2 separate regions of the Homo sapiens genome follow, and region 1 is linked to region 2. Evidence: fine-mapped expression QTL. A gene starts in region 2. The other region holds a variant in brackets. All regions are shown on one strand. Distances are from middle to middle.

The links. PIP is the estimated chance that this variant, and not a neighbour inherited with it, causes the effect.
Region 1: its variant is the best candidate, but not a certain one, in a credible set for the expression of CEP250 in lymphoblastoid cells (CAP, PIP 0.59).

What each region holds. Positions count from the first base shown.
Region 1 is chr20:35,549,067-35,554,429 of GRCh38, forward strand. All of the region lies in intron 7 of ERGIC3 (ERGIC and golgi 3), which reads left to right. Among named protein-coding and RNA genes, the nearest start is that of ERGIC3, 9.7 kb to the left of the region's middle. The variant C/T (reference allele first, on the strand shown) is at 2,779.
Region 2 is chr20:35,452,872-35,458,240 of GRCh38, forward strand. CEP250 (centrosomal protein 250) reads left to right here and starts at 2,727. Exons shown (of 35, transcript NM_007186.6): 1 at 2,727-2,880. It overlaps MIR1289-1 (microRNA 1289-1), which reads right to left and starts at 1,226; the gene lies at 1,083-1,226. It also overlaps a transcript of GDF5 not described here. RefSeq lists enhancers at 1,662-1,711, 1,972-2,121 and a silencer at 2,142-2,521.

The DNA.
Region 1 (5,363 bases), 96 kb after region 2:
AGACCTTACTGGCTGTGTGACTTTGAGAAGGTTTCTTAATCTTTTTGACTCCTGTTTTCTACTTTATAAAATGTTGTGAGGGCACTTATCTCACAGGGTGTGTGTGCAGGTTAAAGATGATAGCACGGAGCCTGGCTTGTGGTAGGTACTTGTTGAAATGGTAGCCCCCCGTGTCCGATGATGACCTGTGCATGAGGCTTTGGGAGAAGCAGAGCTAGGTTGGAGCACAGGTTCTGCCACACCTGGGCTATGTCATATTTGGGCCCTATTTAGTTGCTTCTTCTGTAAAATGGGGATGATGATAATAGTACCCACTCACAGGGCTGTTGGGGTGAACAAATGAGATTTATTCTCATTCATTTGTTCATTCATGCATTCACAAAATATTTAGTAATCACCTACTAGTCTAGTTGCTAAGGGTACAGTAGTGAACAATCTGTGCCCTCAGAACATTCTAGTAAAGAAATAGACAATAAGTATATAAAATATAAATAGTCCCCAATTAACAATGGTTCAGCTTGCAATTTTTAACTTCATGATGGGTATTACATGCATTTTTCACTTAACGATATTTTCTTTTTCTTTTTTGAGACAGAGTCTCACTCTGTCGCCCAGGCTGGAGTGCAGTGGCATGATCTTGACTCACTGCAACCTCCACCTCCTGGATTCAAGTGATTCTCCTACCTCAGCCTCTTGAGTAGCTGGGTGTACAGGTGCGTGCCACCACGCCCAGCTAAGTTTTGTATTTTTAGTAGAGATGGGGTTTCATTATGTTGGCCAGGCTGGTCTTGAACTCCTGACCTCAAGTGATCTGCCCGCCTCGGCCTCCCAAAGTGCTAGGATTACAGGCATGAGCCACCGCACCTGGCCGACTTACAATATTTTCAACTTGCAATGGGTTTATTGGGACGTAACCCCAGTGTAGGTCAGGGAGCATCTGTATATGGTATATCAGATGCTGTTAAGTCATATGGACCAAAACAAGGCAGGATAAAGATGGTAATGGGGAGGGGCTAGGGTAGGGCAGTGAGGGTCCTATTTTAAATATGGAGGTCAGGGAAAAACTCTTTGATGAGGTAATATTTTAGCAAAGACCTGAAGACAGTGAGGGAGCCAGCCATGTGGATGTCTGGGGAGGAAGTGTTACAAGCAGAGAGAACAGCAAATGCAAATTCCTAAGGCTAGAATGTGCTTGGCAAGTTCAAGATACAGTAAGAAGGTTAGGGTGGCTGGAGCAGAGGAGCATGCTTAGAAATGAAGTGAGAGAGGCCGGGTGCAGTAGCTCATACCTGTAATCCCAGCACTTTGGGAGGCCGAGGCGGGTGGATCACCTGAGGTCAGGAGTTCAAGACCAGCCTGGCCAACATGGTGAAACCCTGTCTCTACCAAAAATACAAAAATTAGCTGGGTGTGGTGGCACACGCCTGTAATCCCAGCTACTCGGGAGGCTGAGGCACGAGAATCTCTTGAACCTGGGAGGTGGAGGTTGCAGTGAGCTGAAATTGCGCCATTGTACTCCAGCCTGGGTAACAGAGTGAGACTCCATTTCAAAAAATAATAATAAATAAAGAGAGGTCACAGGGCCATATCATGCAGGGCTTGCAGGGGCATTGTAGGGACTCGGGCCGTTACTCTGCATGAGATGAGAAGCCATTGTAGGGCCCTGAAGAAGGTGAGGCATGATCTGACTTAAAAGCTCTCCAGCTGCTCTGTGGACAAGACTGGGCAGGGGAAAGGACAGAATCAGAGAGGCCCATTAGGAGGCAGTTGCAGTGATCAATCCAGGCAAAAGATGGTGGGGCACGGCCCAGAGTGGCAGTGGAAGTGGTGGGAAGTGACTGGCTTCTGGATGTATTTTGAAGGTAGAGCTGAGAAGAGTTCCTGATGGGCATGAGGGATAAAGGAAAAAGGAGTCAAGGATGCCTCCAAAGTTTTGTACCTGAGTAGTAAGAAGGATGGAGTTGCCTGTAATCCTAGCACTTTGGGAGGCCAAGGCAGGTGGATTGCCTGAGCTGAGGAGTTTGAGACCAGCCTGGGCAACATGATGAAACCTTGTCTCTACTAAAAAATGCAAAAAATCAGCCGGGCGTAGCGGCGTGCGCCTGTAGTCCCAGCTACTCGGGAGGCTGAGGTAGGAGAATTGCTTGAACCCAGGAGGCGGAGGTTGCAGGGAGCCGAGATTGTGCCATTTCACTCCAGCCTGAGCGACAGAGTGAGATTCCATCTCCATTAAAAAAAAAAAAAAGGATAGAGTTGCCATTTAGCAAGATGAGGGAGACTCAGGGCAGGTTTAGATGTTCGGAAATGGGATCGTACAGCTGGTATTCGGCTTTTGACGTGTTCAGACCAATAGCATCTGGGTGTCCTTCTAGACACCCAAGGTGTCAAGTAAGTTTTCCATTCAAGCCTGGAGTTCAGGGAGAGGACTTGCCTGGAGATGCAGATGTTGGCATCATCAGCATGTGTATAGAGCTGTGGGACTGGATGAAATCACCCTGGAGGTGAGGGCAGATGGAGAAGAAGGGAAGCTCAAAGGGCTGGGTGCCAGGCCTCCCACATTAGAGGCCAAGGGTGTCAGGGGGAATTGGTAGGGGAGACTGGAGGAGGAGTGTAAGCTGGGAATGTGGCATCCTGCCAGCCACGGACGGGTGTTTCAAATACCACATCAGATGCTTCTGGATGTCAAGCGGGAATTGACCATGGCATGTACATGCAACAGTCACTTATAGCCTTGACTGAGTCATTTAAGGGTGTGACAGGACCACCCTAGAGTGGGTT[C/T]GGGAGGGAATGGGGGAGGAGTTGGAGCCAGTATTGACAGCTCTATAGTGGAAATTGCCTAGGGGAGGAGAGAGCATGAGCTGAAGCTAGAGGGAAATGTGGAGTCGAGGGAGGCTTTTCTAAGGAGGGTGATGTAGCAGAATGTTAATATGCTGTTGGAAATTATCGACTAAAGAGCATAAGTGATGCTCCAGAGACGAGACAGTGACCGGAGTGAAGTCCTGGAGAAGGAGAAAGAAGACAGAATCTAGTGCCTTACATATGTGGAAAGTCCAAACTTAGCACCAGGAGGAAGGGCAGGCTCTGTAGGTACAGGTAGGGTGGTAGCTGGTGTGGCAGAAGTACATGGAGAGTCTCTTCTGAGTCTTCCCATCTTCTCCGTGTTGTAGGAAGGAAGGTCCTCAGTTGAGAATGAGGAGAGAGGGAAGGAGGTGTTGGAGATTTGAAAGAAGAAAAGATGTGACTGGTCACTTGGGGGTGGAAGAGTGCGTGGACTGGGGAGATTGAGTAGGATTGATGCAGCCCTAGGGCCTCCCTGGAGTCCGCGGCTGTGAATGCAAAGAGAGCGGTCAGCATGGTTGTCTGTGTGGGAATGGACTCAGTCAACAGAACATTGCAATTGCATGGGGTTTGGTGTTGCCAGGTGCCTGCAAAGGTGAGGGAGTCAAATATGTAAAGAACTCATCTTGATTCTGGACCACAGCATATGAGCTAGGAAAGGAGGAAAGACAGGATGTGGAGAAGCCAGTGAGGGGGCAGGAGGAAAAAGGGACTACAAGTCCTGAGTGTAGTGTCAACAAGTTATTGGAATTGGGGAACTGGAGGAAATTAGAAAGCTGGTGGAGCATGAGTTGCTTGAAATTGAAGTCACAGAAGGGGCTTTGTTAATGACAAAGTTTAGGGAATGGCCAACAGAGCAAGTGGCTTGGGTAGGCAGAGCACAAGATCAGGGAGGAAAGGATGTCCAGGAACTGGGAGGCCCGGGTACTGGAAGGATCATCTACGTGGATATGGAAATCACTAGAACGTGTGACAGAGGTAGTACAGGAGAGAGTGACAGGCAGTTGCCCAAGCTGTTGAAAAATGGCATGGGAAAACTGTTCTGGAGGTTCCATATCGATATCTAGGTGACTGAAACAAGCAGGGCTGCTTTGCCCTGAGCTTCAAAGCTGGGGATTTTTTTTTTTTTTTTTTTTTTTTTTTTGAGGCTGGAGTGCCATGGCACAATCTTGGCTCACTGCAGCCTTGACCTCCTGGACTCGAGATCCTCCCACCTCAGCCTCTCAAGGAGCTGAGACCACAGGCACATGCCACCATGCCTGGCTAATTTTTTTTTTTTTTTTTGCAGAGACAGGGTCTTGCCATGTTGCCCAGGCTCCTGGGCTCAAGTGATCCTCCCGCTTGGCCCCCCAAAATGTTGGGATTACAGATGTGAGCCATTGTGCATTTTTAAGGCAGATAAAGGGAAAGTGATCTGGAAGTGGCAGTAAGGAGCAAGAAAGACTTCTCTTTAGGCCAGGGAAGAGGTTGTGTATGGAGAGAAGATAGTCGCACGTTGAGGGGATGCCAGGGAGTTAGTGCCTGAAAGGAAGAGCCAGGCTGAAGCAAGAAAGTGAAGAGGAACCCAGGGGTTGAAGGCAGGGTTGGGGAAGGTGGGAGTTGGTGTCACAGTAAAGGATGGACAGAGCTGCACAGTGACAGAGCCCAGGGTATGAAGATGGCCTCTCAAAATGGTTGAAGTGAACAGGAAGAAAGGGCCCCCTGGAGGGTAGCTCTGCTGGTCTTCAGGGCAATCTGTGGGGGTGGGGCTGTGTTGGGGAGGGGCCAGTGTGGGGGCTGGAGGACCCTGCAGAGCTCTGGGACCCCCTCTTCACTCTGGAGGAAGCTGGGAGAAAAGGGTCTTGCTGGGAGGGCAGGAAGATGATCAGTGTCAAGCTGTTGGCACAAGGTCTGGCGGGCACTCAGTAGACACACAGCCAGAGTGGCAGCCTCTTGGCCTGGGACTGTTAGACTTGTGGATCCCCGGGCCGGGGGTGCTCTGTATTTGGAAGGATGTATAAATGCAAAGGTACAGTTGCCCAAGGCCAGAGATCTGGCTGAATTGAGGCCTGGGAGTGAGTTTCTAACATCCTTGTTGATTGGGGCTGGGGTGGGTAATAATCTCTTACAGTGTAAAGTTTACAAGTATTTTTCCATCTTAGATCCCACGTGATCCTTAGGACAGCCCTTTGCAAAGGAGAACACTGAGGCCCAGAAAGGGCAACTGATTTGCCCAAGGCCACACAGTCAGGAACTTGGCTCTTTGAGCTCTAGGCCTCTTGTCCTTCTAGGCCACTATTTTGCTCCTCTCTGGCCAGATTAGTTCACTCTCGAGGAGGGGCCCAGAAGGAGGCTTGTTAGCTGGGGCCAGACTGTGTTGCTGAGGCTGAATGTTCCAGTCTTCCCTCCTGCAACATATCTTGCTCTCATAGTTCTCATTGTGAAGCTCTGAATCTTTCTTCTCTCTCCTCCCTCCCCCATGCTGCAGTACATGCTGTGGAGAGTAAGTGGCCCTGCCCCCATGGAGGCCAAACCCCTACTTCTGG
Region 2 (5,369 bases):
ATAAGTCTCCTATCCACACAAAGCTTAAATTTTGGAGGGAATGTTAATAGGAAAACAAAATAATAAATGGAAAGTGCTATGAAAGAAACAGAAGACGGCCGGGTGCGGTGGCGCATGCCTGTAATGCCAGCATTTTGGGAGGCTGAGGCGGGCGGATCACGAGGTCAGGAGATCAAGACCATCCTGGCTAACACGGTGAAACCCCGTCTCTACTAAAAATACAAAAAAATTAGCCGGGCGTGGTGGCGGGCACCTGTGGTTCCAGCTATTGGGGAGGCTGAGGCAGAAGAATGGCGTGAACCCGGATGGTGGAGCTTGCAGTGAGCCGAGATTGCGCCGCTGCACTCCAGCCTGGGCGACAAAGCAAGACCCCGTCTCAAAAAGAAAAGAAACAGAAGACTATCCTAGAAAGTATAGGGTATTACTTTAGATAGCATGGTCAGGGAAGACCTAGTTGAGGAAGTATCATTTAAGCTGGGACCTGAAGGACAGGAAGGTACCAGCTAGGCCAAGAGCTGGGGGAAAAGTGGTCTAGGTAGCTGGCATAGTGTATGCAAACGCCCTGAGGCAGAAAAGAGCTTGATGTGCATAATATTTAGATTGTTTCATTTGTATTTCAAATATTGTTGCAGTGAACATTCAAGCACAATGCCTGTTGTGGGATTATTTCCCTAGGATGGAATCCCACACCACTGCTTCTTTGCATCGTTTTCTCTGTCTAGTGCCTGGAGATGTTCCTTTTCCCCTCTCTAGATAGTTTGCCTTTCAGAATCCGTGTCCTTCCTTCCCCTTTTACTCTCCACTTTCTCTATTTCTCAAATTAGCTATTAAGATCTTTTTTGTGTTCTTACAGGAGAAAGATAAAATATAGCTTTTAAGCGTTCCTTTCTCAGGTTACCTTTGGCTGTGGATTAACCTGAAGCCTTGCTGTTTCACTCGAGCTATCCACTCATTCACCCATTCACTCAGCACTTATTGAGCACCTATTTTGTACCAGGCCTTGTGCTGAGCGCTATAGTCAGATGACCAAATTACAGTCTCTACGCTCAAGCTCACAATCTCATGCAGCGCTTCCTAAAACGTGTTCCCAATTATCAGAATCACCCTGGGTACTTTCTAAAATGCAGATTCCTGGACTCCACCCCCGGTTTAGGGATTCTCTGGGGGTGGAAACCAAGAGTCTGCATTTACCAGTTTTGTTTTTAATTCCTACTAAAAATTGAGAACCACTGAGTGCAAGAGTGAGGCAGGTAAATGGAGTTTACAACTCTAAGAAAGTGCATTAACAATTTATACACAAGGCCGGGCGCGGTGGCTCACGCCTGTAATCCCAGCCCTTTGGGAGGCCGAGGCGGGAGGATCACGAGGTCAAGAGAGATCGAGACCATCCTGGCCAACATGGTGAAATCCTGTCTCTACTAAAAATACAAAAATTAGCCGGGCGTGGTGGCGGGCGCCTGTAGTCCCAGCTACTCGGGAGGCTGAGGCAGGAGAATTACTTGAACCTGGGAGGCAGAGGTTGCAGTGAGCCGAGATCGTGCCAATGCACTCCAGCCTGGCGACAGAGCAAGACTCCATTTCAAAAAAAAAAAAAAAAATTTATACACAAAATGCTACAGGAATAACGCATGGGTCCTATTGGGAAGAAAAAGTTCTCTAGAAGTCAGGCTTAAGCAGAACTGCAGCTCCGGGACGGATTAAGTCAGGTAAAGGTAACACTCTGTGCAGAGACATGCAGACAAAACCGAGTGTTGAGTAAGTAACTCGCCTGTAAGTGTTATGCTGCCTGAAGCTTCTCGGAGCGTCTGAGCAGCAAGGTGAACAACCCTCAGAAACCGGTCGCGCTGCCAGTATTATCGCTAACCAGTGGCAGCGAGCCCCTTTGTTTCTCGGCAGTTGTAATTGTAGTCTGGTTTGTAGGTGGAGCTGTGCGCAGGCGCACCTAGAACCAGGTGACCTTGCACATGCGCTGTATGTAACACTGAAGCCAAAAGCGAAATGATTGAGGGCAATTTTTCTTTTCTGCTTCCGAAATGTCCCTTTCGCGAATCCAGAGACCCTGACCGTCCCCATTTCTGGCTAGGGATCTTATAATTCTTAAAATAATACCCCCTTTCCTTCAGGGCCTCTCTAGTAAGTCGGCTGCCAATACCCAACATGGCGGGAGGCCCTGCGCCGGCTCAGTCTGCCTATAGGTGCAGGACTTGGAGGGGCGGGCCCCTCCCAAAGGGCGGGAGTTTGGGGGGGCGGGGCCTGGCCCTCTGCCTCGGGGTGGGCTCCGCCCCCGTCCCCCGCAGGGCCTTAGCAGCGGCTGCCGCAGCTCAATCGCGGAGCAACTAGCCGGGCGTCTGCGGGAGCCGAGCGTGGTGAGGTGGGGCCTCAGGGGCAGGTGGGAGGTGCTCGGGTTAACCGTCCGAGGCCCGGAGACCCGCCCGTCTAGGGCGCCTGAGGGAATCCCGTTCGGGCAGCGGCCTCTTGTTACCCGGGAGGAACCCGAGGCCCAGAGAGGGGCTGGGACGCGTCGTTAGGGCCCGGGGCCCGCTTGCCTCAGCTTCTTGCTGCCGCCAGCACGCTAAGCTCCAGTCGGCGCCGAAGGAGAGCTTCCCGACCCTCGTGTCCAGTAGCCGCAATCCCAGGCTGGGAGGGTGAGGCGCCGCGCTCTGCCGCCCCCCCGCCCCTCGCTCCCTGTGTCCTGGCGGATTTGCACGTAATCTATCCGAAAGCCCAGTCCCACCCGCCACCCGACTCTGGAGCTCCCATTCTTCAGGACCCTGCTGAAGTATCGCTTCTCAGCCGCCTTCTCCAGGCGCAGCTGCATTCGCTTCTCGGTTTTTGCACTCGCTGTGCACCGAGTTACTTTCCCGGCCCCTCGTTGACACCGTAAGCTCGTTCGTTAGATGTTATGCCTTGCCTTTTTCATCTCTAGATCCCAGGGCCTAGCACGTGATGATAATAGTCATGGCTTACTGTACGGAATGATCACAAATTGTCAGGTGCTACTGAATGCATTACACATAAGGGCCCATTTATTTATTTATTTAGAGACGGAGTTTCGCGCTTGTTGCCCAGGCTGGAGTGCAATGGCGCGATCTCGGCTCACCTCAACCTCCGCCTCCCGGGTTCAAGCGATTCTCCTGCCTCAGCCTCCCAAGTAGCTGGGATTGCAGGCATGCGCCACCACACCCGGCTAATTTTATGTTTTTAGTAGAGACGGGGTTTCTCCATGTTGGTCAGGCTGATCTCGAACTCCCGACCTCAGGTGATCCGCCCGCTTCGGCCTCCCAAAGTGCTGGGATTACAGGCGTGAGCCACCGCGCTCAGCCAAAGGCCTATTTAATCTTCCCAACAATCCTATGGGGTGAGTTCTTTCTATAGCTTCACGTTTTACCCATGAAGAAACTGAGGTATTCATAGAAAAAGTAATTTGCCAGGAGTCCCACAACTAATAAGTGGATGGAGCTGGGAAACTGTCCCCAGGGCATTTGATGACTTGACTAGATTGCCTTTGGGTTTAATCAACGTCTGTTGAATTGATCTTTACTTTGGCCCTGGGAGTTATTGGAGGCTAGGCTTGTGATCAGTATTTTACCGCGAAGGCTTAGAAAGGAGAACTGGTCCCAGATTTATAGAGGTCACAACAAAACCAAGGCTACTGGTACGCCCTCTGTTCCTTTAGTTCTTCTATCTTTCTTTGCTCCTTTTCGATCAGAAAGCTGCAGACATAGGTGTCATTATCGCTCACTATTTAAGAAGTGCCCCTCACAGAGCTGTGAGTTCGTAGTCCATGCTTTAACTAATGTAATGTTCATGCTTTAACAGCTAATGTAATGGAGAGAGTGTAGAATTTGGAATCAGATTGGGGTTCAGTCATTGCTCTGCCACTGACCAAGCTATAAGTTATATGCCTCCCCCCACTTTTTTTTTTTTTTTTGAGACCTGGTCTCAGTCACCCAGGCTGGAGTGCAGTGGTGCGATCTGGGTTCACTGGAACATCCTGTCTCCCAGGTTCAGGCGATTCTCCCGCCTCAGCCTCCTGAGTAGCTGGGATTACAGGCGCCCGCCACCGTGCCTGGCTAATTTTTGTATTTCTAGGAGAGATGGGGTTTTGCCATGTTGGCCAAGCTGGTCTCGAACTCCTGGCCTCAAATGATCTGCCCAACTCAGCCTCCCAAAGTGCTGGGATTACAGTTGTGAGCCACCACACCCAGCCTGTTTTTTTGCTTTTTATATAGGTAATAGAGCTGTTAGCATTTTGCAAGACCATTGGTGATAATATGGATCATGTTACCTAATGTCCTATAATAGTCAGTAATAATGGGCACTTGTTATAAACCAGGCTGTGTTTTAGGTAGGAGCTGGGAATACAGCATTCGATAAAACAATGCTTTTGCACTTGTGGAATTTGCATTTTGGTAAGTATATTACATAATAATTAGATAGGGACAGAAAAAGCATGGTAAGGTAAATAAAAGTACTAGTGTTATGTGGAGAGGTGATAGTATTTTATTTATTTATTTATTTGAGCATCTTGTCCCAGGCTGGAGTGCAGTGGCGTGATCACAGCTCACTGCAGCCTCGAACTCCTTGGCTCAAGCAGCCCTCCCACCTTAACTTCCCAAGTAGCTGGGACTACAGGTGAATGCCACACAGCCAGCAATTTTTTTTTTTTTAATAGAGATGGGAATCTCCCTGTGTTGCCCAGGCTGGTCTTGAACTCCTGGCCTCAAGAGATCCTCCCACCTTGGTGAAACTCTGTCTCTACTAAAAATACAAAAAAATTAGCTGGTCGTGGTGGCACATGCTTGTAATCCCAGCTACTCAGGAGGCTGAGACATGAGAATTGCCTGAACCGGGGAGGCAGAGGTTGCAGTGAGCTGAGATCATGCCAGTGCACTACAGCCTGGGTAACAGAGCCAGATCCTGTCTCAAAAACAAAACAAAACACTGGATGAGATTACCTTGGAAATTAATGGAGATGGAGAAGAGGTCTGAAGCCTTGAGGTTTCCAAACTTTAGATACTGGGGAGATGAGAAAAGGCAGCAAAGGAGACTGAGTGGGAGAGGCCAGAGGTTGGAAGAGAGCAACAGAGAGGCCCCACATGAGATTTAAATAAGGAGCTGCATGCTAATTTGTTTTTTTCAGGAGTAAGAAACAAATTATGTCTGTACACAAATGTCTATACTGTAGTTTCTTTCTCAGTAAATAAAATGTTTGTGTCCTCAAGTATTTTTCTGTTTTTGCTTTAAGTGACAAATTCTATTTAATACCATTCTGCATCTTAGTCCTTGTAGCATTTATGCCTCTATTCCAAGTTTAGGTGGTAGTGTTGCTTCTCTTTTAAACTTTATTTAAATACTCCTTTTGTAGT